2 linked regions of the Homo sapiens genome follow. The protein of the gene in region 2 interacts with the protein of the main gene of each other region in a pairwise test. Each region holds a gene or a part of one and is shown on either strand. Other genes may lie near its edges.

The links. Proteins that work in one complex are often made in the same cells at the same time.
Region 1: the proteins of ZNF12 (region 2) and DCLK3 interact in a two-hybrid assay, tested with the Homo sapiens proteins (one study listed by IntAct).

The regions. Positions count from the first base shown.
Region 1 is NC_000003.12:36,761,533-36,769,009, reverse strand, and holds the start of DCLK3 (serine/threonine-protein kinase DCLK3), read left to right. Parts: upstream 1-4,456; 5' UTR 4,457-4,746; coding exon 4,747-4,828; intron 4,829-7,477.
Region 2 is NC_000007.14:6,703,930-6,711,623, reverse strand, and holds the start of ZNF12 (zinc finger protein 12), read left to right. Parts: upstream 1-4,676; 5' UTR 4,677-5,192; intron 5,193-6,400; 5' UTR 6,401-6,450; coding exon 6,451-6,465; intron 6,466-7,694. UniProt on the Homo sapiens protein: Transcriptional repressor which suppresses activation protein 1 (AP-1)- and serum response element (SRE)-mediated transcriptional activity.

The sequences.
Region 1 (7,477 bases), on a different chromosome or scaffold from region 2:
CAGGAGGCTGAGGCAGGAGAATCACTTGAACCTGGGAGGCAGAGGTTGCAGCAAGCCGAGATTGCGCCATTGGACTTCAGCCCGGGCAACAAGAGCGAAACTAAGTCTTAAAAAAAAAAAGGCCTCACTCACTGCCGACCTGCCTCGCCACGCCCCGGGCATGCCCTGCCACCACCTCACAGAAATGCTTCGGTTCCCCACTGTCTTTAGATAAGACCATTGTCCAGGGTATTGGTTCCTCATCTCACTCGGGCTTATGCCAAAGATGTAAAATTCAGTGCAGATGCCTGAGCCTTAATGCTTCAAGGTGTAGACCTTTTAGTCGATGCTGTAGCCATTACAATGGGGCCAAAGGGAAGAACAGTGATTATTGAGCAGAGCTGGGGAAGTCCCAAAGTAACAAAAGATGGTGTGACTGTTGCAAAGTCAATTGACTTAAAGAATAAATATAAAAATATTGAAGCTAAACTCGTTCAAGATGTTGCCAATAACACAAATGAAGAGGCTGGGGATGGCCCTACCACTGCTACTGTACTGGCATGCTCTATTGCCAAGGAAGGCTTTGAGAAGATTAGCAAAGGTGCTAATCCAGTGGAAATCAGGAGAGGTGTGATGTTAGCTGTTGATGCTGTAATAGCTGAACCTAAAAAGCAGTCTAAACCTGTGACCACCCCTGAAGAAATTGCGCAGGTTGCTACAATTTCTGCAAGTGGAGACAAAGAAATTGGCCATATCCTCTCTGATGCAGTGAAAAAGGTGGGAAGAAAGGGTGTCATAACAGTAAAGGATGGGAAAACACTGAATGATGGATTAGAAATTATTGAAAGCTTGAAGTTTGATCGAGGCTATGTTTCTCCATACTTTATTAATACATCAAAAGGTCAGAAATGTGAATTCCAGGAGGCATATGTTCTGTTGAGTGAAAAGAAAATTTCTAGTGTCCAGTCCATTGTACCTGCTCTTGAAACTGCCAGTGCTCACCGTAAGCCTTTGGTCATAATCACTGAAGATGTTGGTGGAGAAGCTCTAAGTACACTTGTCTTGAACAGCCTAAAGATTGATTTTCAGGTTGTGGCAGTCAAGGCTCCAGGGTTTTGTGACAAAGAACCAGCTCAAAGATATGGCTGTTACTACTGTTGGTGCAGTGTTTGGAGAAGAGGGGTTGATCCTACATTTTGAAGATGTTCAGCCTCATGACTTAGGAAAAGTTGGAGAGGTCATTGTGACCAAAGATGATGCCATGCTCTTAAAAGGAAAAGGTGGCAATGCTCAAATTGAAAAACATATTCAAGAAATCATTGAGCAGTTAGATGTCACAACTAGTGAATATGAAAAGGAAAAACTGAATGACTGGCAAAACTTTCAGATGGGATAGCTATGCCAAAGGTTGGTGGGACAAGTGATGTTGAAGCGAATGAAAAGAAAGACAGAGTTACAGATGCCCTTAATGCTACCAGAGCTGCTGTTGAAGAAGGCATTGTTTTGGGAGGGGGTTGTGCCCTGCTTTGGTGCATTCCAGCCTTGGACTCATTGACTCCAGCTAATGAAGATAAACTAATTGGTATATAAACAATCAAAACAACACTCAAAATTCCAGCAATGACCATTGCTAAGAATGCAGGTGTTGAAGGATCTTCGATAGTTGAGAAAATTATGCAACGTTCCTCAGAAGTTGGTTATGATGCTACTAGGGTCGGAGATTTTGTGAATATGGTGGGAAAAGGAATTATTGACCCAAGAAAGGTTGTGAGAACTGCTTTATTGGATGCTGCTGGTGTGGCCTCTCTGTTAACTACAGCAGAAGTTGTAGTCACAGAAATTCCTAAAGAAGAGAAGGACCCTGGAATGGGTGCAATGGGTGGAATGGGATGTGGTATGGGAGGGGGCATGTTGTAACTCCTAGAATAGTGCTTTACTTTTATTAATGAACTGTGACAGGAAGTCAAGGCAGTGTTCCTCACCAATAACTTCAGAGAAGTCAGTTGGAGAAAATGAAGAAAAGGCTGGCTGATGTTTAAGAAATCATTATAACCATCAGTTACTGGTTCAGTTGACAAAATATATAATGGTTTACTGCTGTCATTGTCCATGCCTATCAATACTTTATTTTGTATTTTTGAATAAAAAGACATTTGTACATTCCTGATATTGGGTACAAGAGTCATGTACCAATGTACTGCCTTCAACTTAAATAACTGAGGCATTTTTACTACTATTCTGTTAAAATCAGGATTTTAGTGCTTGCCACCACCAGATGAGAAGTTAAGCAGACTTTCTGTGGAGGGTGAGAATAATTATGTACAAAGTAGAGAAATATCCAATTATGTGACAACCTTTGTGTAATAAAAAATTGTTTAAAGTTAAAAACAAAACAAAACAAAAAAGAAAAGAAAGAAAAAGAAAGATGGCCAAGCCTAAAGTCAAGGTACAGGGAAACACACTCCAAGTACCATAAAGGGTGGATTGTCCAATTCAATTGAGGAATGGAGTGAATAACTGAAATTAATAATCTCACCTACCACATCATTATACCTGGATTCCAGGACGAAGGAAAAGGGACAAAGGAGTGCATCTGTCAGCCAAATCAGCATCTTTAAGGCATCTACTGAAAATCCAATACAACACTTACAATTATATTTCATTGGCCAGAAACTTTTCATATCATCACTCCTTGCTGCAAGGGAGGCTAGAAAATGTATTTTTTTTAAATTGCAGGTGGTAGTATGCTTAGCTAAAAAACATTTTTTTTAAAATACCGGATCAGAAATGAAAATAGGTGTTGAGTAGGCAATTAGCAATTTCTTTGCCAATATTCAACAAGATATATCCCTCACTCTTGTGAAGTAATCTGATAACTTAAGGTGTTCATTGTGATTGCTTGATATGTGTATATCTAGTTCGTATTTAAATCATGATAATCCAGCCAATAATTAAACACTGTGAGATTGCTGCTTTTGCAAGGAAGAAAACACAAGTCATCTGATCTCTCCTTTACAAAGCTTAAACCTTTTTACTAAAACTCAGTTTATTTAACTTTTATTTTCTCCTAAAATATAGGTGATAGGGCCAGGAAGAGTGGCTGTTAAAGAGAAAAGTAAGTGATTTTAAAAAGAAAGTGTGTAAGTATCTCAAGGACACTTGTCTCCCAGAGAGATTTCCAATAGGTTCTTCCTTCGGGTTTTTACTCAAATGTTACCTTTCCCAACCACTCAACTTACATAATCACATTCCCTTTTTCTTGGTTCATTTTTCTTCATACTATTTATCACCATACTTGTGTATTTTATTATCTGTCTCCCCCTACTAGAAGGTGAGTGACTTGAAGGCAGGGCATTTGTTGTGTTCACCATTGGTGAACTGGATTGCTGAAAACTGTCCTTGATGATGACTTCAGAGTACCTGGCCAACAAACCAGCTAGAACCAGGAGTTATTTTTTGCACAGCAGCATCATGGCATGGCTGTTGCAGCCATTTTGGAACCTTGAGGCAACAAGTCTGAGGAGAAAAGGCAAGATGTTGAAGGTGGCCATGTGGAATCATGGAAAGAGACTGAGTCCTTAACGTCATCCCTGAGCAGCTGAACACACACAGAGGAGCCTTCTTCCAGGCTTCTTGTTATGTGTGATAAAGAGAAAGACAGCCCCTGCCATCTGGGAGCTGGTCTGGTTCTATCAGCTCGGCCTTGGCGTTCTGTTGAGCATAAACAATTTCACAGAACAGCAACATCAGACCCAACAGACAAGACCACTTTGTGACTTGATTGATAAAGGCAAAAGCCAGACCACTCTGTAATCATGTCAACGGCCCTGTGGAGAGAAGGGTATGGCTGATCCAGTGAATTTATTATCTGACGCAGGAGAGATCTGGGAGTCAGTACCCGGGAATATGGGTCCCCAGACCCCGCACTGCAGACCTGAGGGACCTGCAAATATGAGGAACAGGTGTGTGGTGCTGGGAAGAGGTACAACAAAGCAAGGGGCCATCGAGCTGCCTTCAGATGGTACCAAGAAGCCACTAGGCTGGAGGAACGTTTTGCAGCCTAAGTCTTTGAGACCATGGGTGTGGACCAGAGTGTAAGCAGGTCTCTGAATCTGGGGGGCAACAAGGGTGTTAGAGTAGAACGGCCCTGGGACCTACGGTCAGTGTATCCAAGGAGCGGGAATGGGATAGGAGGAAGGAAGTGGTGTGGAAAGTCTGGCCCCTGCCCTGCAGGGAGGCACGAGGATGGCTGGTGGTCCTGGGGTCGCCTTTGGGCTGCCACCCACCCACAGAGAACAGGGGCAAAGCGCACGTTCAAAACCCAGCGCAGCCAGGTTCCACCGCGGAACTGCGCGGGGAAGGAGAGCAGAAAGGCTGGACTCCGCTGACCGGGGAGAGGCGGGACCGCCTTTGGGCGCTCACTGGAGAAGCAGGGGGTGTGGGAGCAAGTTCAAAGCCCGGCCCCGCCCGGCCTCCAGGGCCAGGAGCGGCGCGCATGGCGGGACCGGCGCAGAGAGGGCGGCTGCAGCTGGTGCGCGGTTGCTAAGTCCCGCGCCCCCGGAGACGTTCCCGGTGGCTGTCGCCGGGCGCTGCGCGGCGCGGGGCTGGCAGGCGGGCGGCGGGCGGCGGGAGGGAGAGAAGAGGGAGAGTCGGCGCGGGCTCGTGGCTGCTCGTCTCGCCCCGCCTTCCCGCGCCTGCTCGACCGTCGAGCCGCGTCCCCGCGCTGCCACCTCTGCTCCAGGCTCTCCCCGAGCCCGCCGCCGCGCCATGCCCGCCGCCACTCCAGCCCCGCAGCCGCCGCCGCCCCCGGCCCGGCCAGCCCCAGCCTGCCCGGCGCGGCCTGCCCCGGGTGAGTACCGTGCGCTCCGGCACCGACCCGTTCTGGGCGCCACCTTGGCGGGGGCGGGAGGACTCATTCGCCCTAACTCTGGACCCCGCTCCGTGCGGGATGTAGCAGCAGTGCCAGACCCCGCGTGGGTGTACGGAGGACTGTGTGTGTGTATGTGTGTGTACGTGTGTATGTGTGTGTACGTGTGTGTAAACGCGCGCGCGTGCGGGTGTACACCACCTGAAACCTGCTTTCTAGGGGAATAACGCTCTCCGGAGCTGATTTTATTTCCCTCGCCAGCAGGGGGGCCCTTCCTGGGAAACGCACTGGGTGTCTTTCAAGGTGCAGGTGCGGTGAGGCTGCAGAAGGGAGAAGGCGCAGGGAGGGAGCTGACATTTATTGTGCAACTCAACATGCCAAGCGCTTCACCTAGAGTTAAGCGTATTTCATCCTCTCCACAAATCTGTAAAGAATGGAATTATCCCCATTTCTCAGATGAGAAAACTGAGGCCCACAGAGCTCGTGCCTTGCCCAGGGTCACACGGCTCCATAGCAGCGGAGCTGGAGTTGGATCCAGGTCTCTAGAGGTCTCTGACCCATCTAAATGACAAGAAACCCTCCTTAGAACTAAAGAAACACAGAAGAACCAAAGATGATTAGGAAAAAGGATACAGGCAGAGCATTTGGGAATTAATATAAAAAAATCTGAGCTCGTGAAATATCCTATCAATTAATTTCAAATATAGGATCACATTTACACTCCTTTCCATGTCTGGCCCTGGGGGCGAGGTGTGGTGAGGAAGGGAGAAGGCTGTGCCAGTCCTTGGCAGAGGCGTCTGGGGACACCTTTTCAGAGTATCTGCCTGCTGGGAGGGGGGAAGTGTGTGAGAAGTTGTGGAGGGAACTCCGTTGTTATTCAATCCTAACAGTTAGTCATTCCTCCACCTCACCCCCTCCTAGTTGATTCCATTTCCTTTCCTTGATGTATTGTCCAAGATGACAGCTGTTAAATTGAAGCAGGGTCCCACCTTCATCATTGGCTGTCATAAAACCTCTTGGCATTAATTAGGTGGCCCTGCACTTTGATGATTGTATTAGGAGCTGTGAAGTGTCTGTGTAACTGCTTACAGTGGAGATCTGTTGGGCTGATGTTGAGCTAATGATCTTGATCAATGAGGCATCTACAGCAATAGGCAAGCATTGTGCTTATCCTTAGGATAAAGTAGCAAGAAGCAAGACCCTCAGGAAGAAAAAAAAAAAGAAAAGAGTATTGGGTTTGCCTCACAGCCCAACTTTAGAAAAGCATTTCAATTTAATATTTAAATTGCTTCACTGAAGAAAGAACAAAGAGGGGCAGAAAGTGTTTTCTGAAAGATGTTCTGTAACTCCTTTCATTTAGGTTTGAAAGATTTTTGAGTCATGTTCTTTTATGGTGAGCTTTGCCATCTTGGTGCGTATTGGTACCCTGGGTGCCTTCACTTCCAATTGCCAGTCCCTCCATCTCTTTGTTGGAGGATGACCCTTGGGCGGCAGAGCCTATGTTTGTAGGGACTCAGAACAGGGAGTGCCTGGGAATTTACATCTCCCCTGGGGCAGCCCCTCCTCAATGACTGATGGGTGCTGGAGTATAAATAGTCCAGCTTCTTTGCCCTTGATTGGGACACTCTGAAGCATGACATCCTTTGTTTCCAGAGATCCAATGTGGAGTTGTGTCAAATTGACCTCTATGGTTCTTTGCTTGGCTTGTTTCCCTCGCTTGGCTTGCTACTTTTTCTTGTTTTACTTCTTCACATCCCTACCATTTTTTCCTAGGAATATCTCCTAATACACTTTCATAGGAATTCTTATCTCAGGATCTGATTCTAAGGAATCCAGATAAAAACATGGACCCTTCTCACTGTCAATGTTTTTATTCTTCCTATGTTATCCAAACATGACTAACATCGGTAATAGGTAGCCCATGCTAACCTGTAGGGTGCCTTTGTATGAATTCACAAAAGGTGTTCCCTTCTGGGCAGATGGATCCCCATGCCCAGGCAACGGATTGGCAGACAGGTGTTCAGTGTCCACTAGCCCCCTGATCAGTGCTTCTTTGGCAGTGCACACAGTACTCAATGATCATGGTGGCGTGGTGCTCAGAAAAGCAAAAAACAGAGTTGCTTAGTTGTCCCAGGATCTCATTTCTGGCTTCTCTTTTTTCCCAAGAAAAAATCCCCCAAAGAGGGATTTTCCCCTTTTTTCCCCTAAATATTTGAATATTTCAGGCAGATGTTTTGGTTTTCTTTGGACAAGCCAGTCTTAGTTTCTTTCTAAAGCCAACAAAGGGGAGGAAAAGGGCTGCTTTGGCTGGTGGAATCTCAATCCTGCAGCCTGCAGGCGGGTGGTGGTGCCTGGTCAGGGAGGGTGGGTAGGTCTCCACCAGCCTCCAGAAGTTCTCAGAGGGGTCTTGTCTTGACGGTGAGGTTACTGGGTAGGGGCTTGGATGGGCTGCTTTAGTTGGAGGCTCTTGCTTGAAGACGTTTTCCTTTCCTTGGATCCAGGAGGGTCATTGTATCTGATCTGGCATCCTGAGTTTCCTCACCTTTTCCTTTGGTGGCCTCTTGATAATGTCTAAATTTTGCCCGTCTGCTGGTGGAGCAGAGCCCCTTTTGAAGATGCATACGTGGGGGA
Region 2 (7,694 bases):
CCGGGAAATAGAGATGAATAGAAAGGAAATAGTCAAACTAGCAGAATGGCTGCATTCCTTCAACCAGAAGGGTCCATTAGTCTGTTTTCATACTGCTATAAAGAACTACCTGAAACTGGTTAATTTATGAAGAAAAGAGGTTTAATTGACTCACAGTTCTGCAGGCCGTACAGGAAGCATGGCTGGGGAGGCCTCAGGAAACGGACAGTCATGGCAGAAGGCGAAGTGGAAGCAGGCACGTCTGGCTATGGTGGAGCGGGAGAGACAGAGAGAATGAAGCGGGAGGTGATGCACGCTTTTCAACAACCAGATCCCACGAGGGCTCACTCACTACCAAGAGAACAGCACGGGGGAAGATGGTCCCCATGAGCCAATCACCTCCCACCAGCTCCCTCCCTCAACACTGGGAATTACAATTTGACATGAGATTTGGGTGGTGACACAGAGCCAAACTGTATCAAGGGTAGTTGAACCACCGAGATTTATTTATTTGTTTATTTATTTAGAGACAGAGTCTCGCTCTGTCACCCAGGCTGGAGGCTCACTGCAACCTCCGCCTCCCGGGTTCAAGCAATTCTCCTGCCTCAGCCTCCCGATTAGCTGGGACTACAGCACATGCCACCATGCCTGGCTAATTTTTGTATTTTTAGTAGAGATGGGACTTCACCATGTTGGCCAGGCTGGTCTCCAACTCCTGAGCTCAGGTGACCCGCCTGCCTCGGCCTCCCTTTTGCTAAGATTACAGGCATGAGCCACAGTGCCTGGCCAACCACTGAGATTTAGAAAGCAGTCGAGTCCACTATACCGCACCTCACCTGGTTTCTTCCTCTGTTGGGGCCCCTCGTGGCCACTGTTCTCCTGGTACTTTTCAGTCCTGTTTATTTAAATTGATGGTGAGCTGTTTGTCCTCCCGGCTCCAACACTTCCACCTTCAGCTTGTATTACCACAACAATACCAGCCCTTCAAGCAATTCTGGGTGACCCCAAAACTCATTTGAACTCAGCAGCCCAAGAGTTTCATTCCTCTAACTTTAGGGGACTCAGTGCCTCTGGTCAGCATGAAGTAGATACAGAAGCATGACCTCCATCCCTAATCCCTCAAGAATGAGGAGTGGAAGGTGTCGGCAGGAGGGTGGGGACACGGTTTGTAAATCTGGAACTGCATCAGACTAAATCTAGTTCAAGTTTTTTTTTTTTTTTGACGGAGTTTTGCTCTTGTCACCCAGGTTGCAGTTTAATGGCGCGATCTCGGTTCACTGGAACCTCCGCCTCCTGGGTTCAAGAGATTCTCCTGCCTCAGCGCATCACCACCCCTGGATAATTTTTGTATTTTTAGTAGAGGCGGGGTTTCACCATATTGGCCAGGCTGGGCTGGAACTCCTGACCTCGTGATCTGCCTGCCTCAGCTTCCCAAAGTGCTGGGATTACAGGTGTGAGCCACCACACTCCACGTCCATTTCAACTTTTATGTAATGTAGTTGGCAGTTGTTTTTCAACTGCCATGGATCCGTGGGTTGAAGGTCATATACTCTGAGCATGCCCAGATTAACCAAGCATGCAACCACGAAGTGGAACCTAAGTGCTCGGACTGAGGAGCTGGGACCCATTTAAGAACCGGACACCCTGTGGCAGGAGCCAGGAACCAATGAGATTGAGTTTTGGTGTCACTCCATGGCAGGATCCAGTCAGATCACACCTCCCAGCATTAATTACTTCATCTCAAGATCCAATCAAATCACATCTCCTTACCCTATGCGTACAAAACCTGACATAGCCCCCAGCTGGGAAAGGGAGATTTGAGCATTTCCTCCTGTGTCCTTGCTAGTTGACTTACAAAAAGGCTTTATTTCTCAAAAGCTGGAGCCATGGTATTGGCCTCTGTACACACTGGGCAGCGAGTGCATTGACTGCTCGGTAACATATATGTGGACTACATGCGGACTCGCATTTCCAAAACATTTGATTTGGTTTCAGTAAAAAATACCTTTCTAGCACATTAAAGCAACAGAAGTTCAATTTCTCTTTTTTTCTAAGAATTTGGGCAAATTCAATTTATATAAGTACATACACACCTCTACAAGCCAATCAGAACAGCAAACCTTTAAAGACTCTATATTGTGGCTCATGCCTGTAATCCCAGCACTTTGGGAGGCTGAGGTGATCAGATCGCTTGAGCCCAGAAGTTCGAGACCATCCTGGGCAACATGGCAAAACCCCATCTCTATAGAGAATACGAAAATTAGTTGGGTATGGTGGTACACACCTGCAGTCCCAGCTAATTGGGAGGCTGAGGTGGGAGGAACACCTGAGCCCAGGTAGGTTGAAGCTGCAGTGATCCGTGATCGCACACACTGCACTTCAGCCTGGACGACAGAGTGAGACCCTGTCTCAAAAACAAACAAACAAACTCTATATCTACTATAATACCATTCAGAGGTGGAAAAACATTAGACACTCACACAATCAGAGGTAAAGACCTTTCTAAATTACAGACACACAGACATACAAAGAAATAGAGCTTACAGCTTCAATTCTAAAATTTCAGACATGGGTCAAGAGTAAACACAAAAATGCAAAAACTCACCCTTCCAGATATGAAAGAGCTCTTCTCCTCCCAGTGGGCATGAAATTCTTAATTGATTTCAGCTCAAAATAGACAGAGAAATAGAATAACAAATCAGACTCTGATGTCTCTCACCCAACAGAGATTAGGTCTTTGCAAACATTAATCTCATTACAGAGATCACCATGTGATCAGACCATAAAACCAAATTCCTAGCCCAGCGCGGTGCTTCACGCCTGTAATCCCACCACTTTGGGAAGCTGAGGCGAGTCTACCACCTGAGGTCAGGAGTTCGAGACCAGTCTGGCCAACATGGAAAAACCCCGTCTCTACTAAAAATACAAAAATTAGTCGGGCATGGTGGCATGCACCTATAGTCCCAGCTACTCAGGAGGTTGAGGCAGGAGAATCACTTGAACTTGGGAGGCAGAAGTTGCAGTGAGCCGAGATCGTACCCCTGCACTCCAGCCTGGGCGGCAGAGTGAGACTTTGCCTTGAAACAACAAAAACAAACAAAGTCCCAATCAGTGATGCTAGCAATGTAAACAAATGCAAACCAAAGTAAAACACAGGATTGGTAAATGGGGAAATTACTGAAAAATGAGAAGCCAGCAAATTTCTACTGGCACTTTGGACTCATTCCTGGGAGCCAAGAAAAGATTCACCTGGGCTTCAACAGTTCATGAGGCACTCCAGTCCTGAGGTTTTCCTGGCTCAGTCATGTGATTCCATCAGGGACTTCTGCAAAGACCTGGAAAACCTTAAAACATAAAAGTAAAATCATGACTCTGATACAGATATAAAAATGAGCACATGCTAAAGATTTTATTTAATTCAAGAGGAAACAGGCAGATATTATAACTGGTTCAAAAGAGAATCTGAGGGCTGGACATGGTGGCTCATGCCTGTAATCCCAGCACTTTGGGAGGCTGAGGCGGGTGGATCACTTGAGGTCAGGAGTTTAAGACCAGCCTGGCCAACATGGTGAAACCCCCATCTCTACTAAAAATTCAAAAATTAGTCGGGCTTGGTGGTGTGCACCTGTAATCCCAGTTACTTGGGAGGCTGAGGCAGGAGAATTCCTTGAACCAGTGAGCCAAGATCTCGCCACTGAACTCCAGCATGCACAGCAGAGTGAGACCCTGTCTCAAAATTAAAAAAAAAAAGAGAGAGAGAGAGAGAATCTGAGAAACAGACATATTTTCAGATCAGGAATATTGAAATGATTATGTAAATGGAGAAATGCAGTCAAAACTGCATTTTCTCTAGTGGGGATTGTGGGAAGTCAACCAACTTCCACCAGACAGAACATAACTTGCATCGATTACCTACAGTTTTCAAAGAGGTGTAAAATACCTCAAAGATAAGGAACAGGGTTGGAATCAAGTAACATGGCTTTCTAAATGTGCTTCGTTTTCCATTAAGACGCAAATTTCTTCTTCTGCTTGCCTCATCCTCTTCAGGAAGTAGAGTTCTGGCTAATTTTTTTCTTCTTTCAATTCTGTACATATTCTCTGAGTTTTCTAGCTATCACTAATTCAAAGTGATTTGGAAAAGCTGGAATTCTTTTTCTCCTTGTTGGGGCGAGGATGGTATCCTGTCCCAGGCTAATCCTCTATTATTTCATCCATGGGCTCTATTTACTGAAGTTTTCGTTAAATGTGTCATTGTGATCATAAGCTAGCATGATGCACCCTCTTGTTCCATTTGTCACGGTTGCACATGGACATTGATTTTAAGCCTTGAGCTCTCCGGTAAGGCAGGACTGGCCCAGGCATGGTCTACGAGATGCTACAGGAAGCAGAGACTTTCTAGACGTTCCCTTAAAGATAGTCAAGACATCCCCATGAAGACGTTCCCTTAAACTAAGGAGAAATTTGAGTCTGGGGTTCGGCGTTGCCAATTCTCTTAGCATAGAGCCTCTTAACCGCTAGACCAGATAGAGACATTTCAAATGGCTCCTAAATTTGGGGAGCGCGTAGGCTCATGGGAAATAGAGTCACGGTATTTGTCCTGGGACCGGCGGCGGGTCCCGGGAGGCGGACTTCCGGTGCATTCCTGCGCATGTGCACCCCTCTCTGTGTGCGTGTTCGCGCATGCGCGCCGCGGCCGCAGTGCCCTCGCTTCCTGTGCGTCCCCAGGTCACCGCTCGCCCTAGTTCCCAGGCTTTGGCCTCCGGTGGGCGAGAATCGCGGAGCCTGCGGGGCTGGGCGCCGAAGAGCCGGGCCGGCACCCAAGCGGGCGCGGGGCTGTGCGGGCCAGGCGGAGGCTCAAGCGGGGATCCCCGAGCACGACCCCCGGAGCCGACGGCGCTGGGGCCCAAGGGGCCGGCCGGGCGGTGACGACGGCGGAGGCGAAGGGGCGGCGGGACCCGGGCCCGGCCCGTGTGCGTCCTCGACGGCCCGGCCCCGGCTCCGCAGGACGGTGAGCCCCAGGGAGACGGATCTGGGCTCCGGGAGGGACGCCCCGCCTGGATTTGTCCCGTAGGCCCGGCCCGGGCCCCTCTGGAGCAGAACGGCCTTGGTGAGGTGGACAGGAAGGGACCTCGCGAGCAGACGCGCGCCCGCGACAGCAATCCCGCCCCGGCCTGTCGGGAGCGGTGGGGCAGAGGCTGCGGAGCCCCAGGAGGGTAAGTCGTGGGTTTGCGGGCCCGGGGCGAGAAGGGCCTGGGTGAAGTCACCGCGTGTAGGGCACCTTAGAGTGAGGGACAGTGGAAGGTCTCGATCGCTTGCAGGAGTGACGTGTGTTTGGGTTTGAAGGCAGGGTCCGGCGAGGACGAGGCTTACGGGGGCGTGGGGGGTGTCACCAGCCTCAGCTGCGGACGTTGTCTCCACTCCCCCCTCACCCCAGCAGCCCTTCCTCCTCTCTCTGCTCCAGATTGCTACCGTATCTAAACGTCCGTCAGCACCTCTGTTCTCTCATTTAAGTGCTGATTCCCCCTTAGGTCTGCTCTTGTGGAATCATACGTTGTAGTGCAGGAACAGCCTGCAGGAACTATCTCTTGCTGCCTCATTTGCTAGGGGAAGGGCCTTAGCAGGTGGGTGACTTGTCCGAGGTTTTGTGGGTGGAGTTGCTCATAGTAGAACTCTGGAGTTTTATCTCCCAGGCCAGTGTTCTGTCCCCCGTATCCTAGTTAAGTGAGCGTAAGTTCTTCAATAAAAGATCCTTTTGAGTAGCACACTGAAGTTTCTGCAAATAAAGACTCAATTATGCCGACTGTATTCCTTTATTTAGGGCATCCTGTGGATTTTCTGATCTTTATTTAAAAGAGTAAGAAAATAGATGAGTATTACAGAATTCATTTTTTGTTGTTTGTTTTTTGTTTGTTTGTTTGTTTGTTTTTGAGACAAGTTTCGCTTTGTTGCCCAGGCTGGAGTGCAATGGTGCCATCCCAGCTCACTGCAACCTCCGCCTCCCGGGTTCAAGCGATTCTCCTGCCTCAGCCTCCCGAGTAGCTGGGGTTACAGGCGCCCGCCACCACGCCCAGCTAATTTTTGTATTTTTACTAGACATGGGGTTTCACCATGTTGGCCAGGCTGGTCACCAGAATTCCTTTTTAAATCTTGCATTTAATGATGGCAGATTATTTCAGTAGGATCCAGTATTCATTCACCATGAGAATCTCATCCACTCAGTCACAAGGTAGCCATGTGTGAGTTTCAAATGTGCAGATCGGTCCCCCTCCTGATCATTTTCCAATCCCTTCTGAAGGCTTAAAGGGACAGTCTCCCACAAGATGTACTTCTTGGAACTTTCTGTGTAGGTTTTGGGCGGGAGATGACCGCCTTGGCAGGCCAGACCGCTCATAACGCCATGGCTTGGGTTTTCCTTCCCCAGATCTGCCTCCGCTTTCACAGTCCTCCAGATTTTTCCAAGAGCAGCAGAAAATGAATAAATCCCTGGTGAGTGTTTCTGTTCATGTATTTATTCTCTACTCTGATTTACAATACACCTTAGGAGGAGATTAAGGGTTCAAAGTTTAAAATGGGAAAGTAGAAATAGATACAAGATTTGGTCAGACAGAACAGTAGCCATCAGCACCAAGCCTTTTTATCATATTCATATGCGCAGATAGCGTGATCCTTAAAGAGTTCTTGAAGTCAGAGTACAAGCGTCTTATGTTCTTGGCATTTATCACAAAAAATGATAAATACCATCCATTCCTTGACTTACATTGACCGTAAGCAGAATCACTTTTGTTTTTGCATGAATTTTAAAGATTCCTCTGAGATCATTATCAACAGCTTTCCTAAATAATAACCCTTGAACCATTGCAATTCTTGCCTTTCTTTTTTTTTTTTTTTTTTTTTTTTTTTTTTTGAGACCAAGTATTGCGCTCTGTCACCAGGCTGGAGTGCAGTGGCGCTATCTCAGCTCAGTGCAACCTCCACCTCCCAGGTTCAAGTGATTCTCCTGCCTCAGCCTCTGGAGTAGCTGGGATTACAGGCATCTGCCACCACACCCGGCCTTTTTTTTTTTTTTTTTTTTTTTTAAAGTAGAGACAGGGTTTCACCATGTTGGCCAGGCTGCTCTCGAACTCCTGAGCTCAGGTGATCCACCCGCCTCGGCCTCCCAAAGTGCTGAGCTTACAGGCATGAGCCACTGCGCCCAGCCCATAATATTTCTAGTAACTAAAACATTGTTGTCTCAAAGGTAGATTCTTTTTACTGCTCTATCCGTTGCAGAAATGGCCTTCTCACCCTTAAATTAGTCTCCCTAAATATTTTCTTTTCTTTTTTTTTTTTAAAGATGGAGTCTCACTCTGTTGCCCAGGCTGGAGTGCAGTGGCGCTATCCCTGATTCAAGCGATTCTCCTGCCTTAGCCTCCCGAGTAGCTGCGATTACAGGCACCTGCCACCACACCCAGCTCATTTTTGTATTTTTTTAGTAGAGACGGGGTTTCAGAAGCACTTGGGCCAAGCTGGTCTCGAACTCCTGACCTCAAGTGCCAAGTGATTTGCCCACCTTGACCTCCCAAAGTGCTGGGATTATAGGTGTGAGCCACCATGCCAAGCCGCCTCCCTAAATATTTCTCTTAGTTTATCTGGGTTGCACAGCAGAAAGGACCATAATAAATCTCTGGCATAGATGCCCATTTTATCCCATAGCCTGTGGTCTTGGTCCTGTCCCT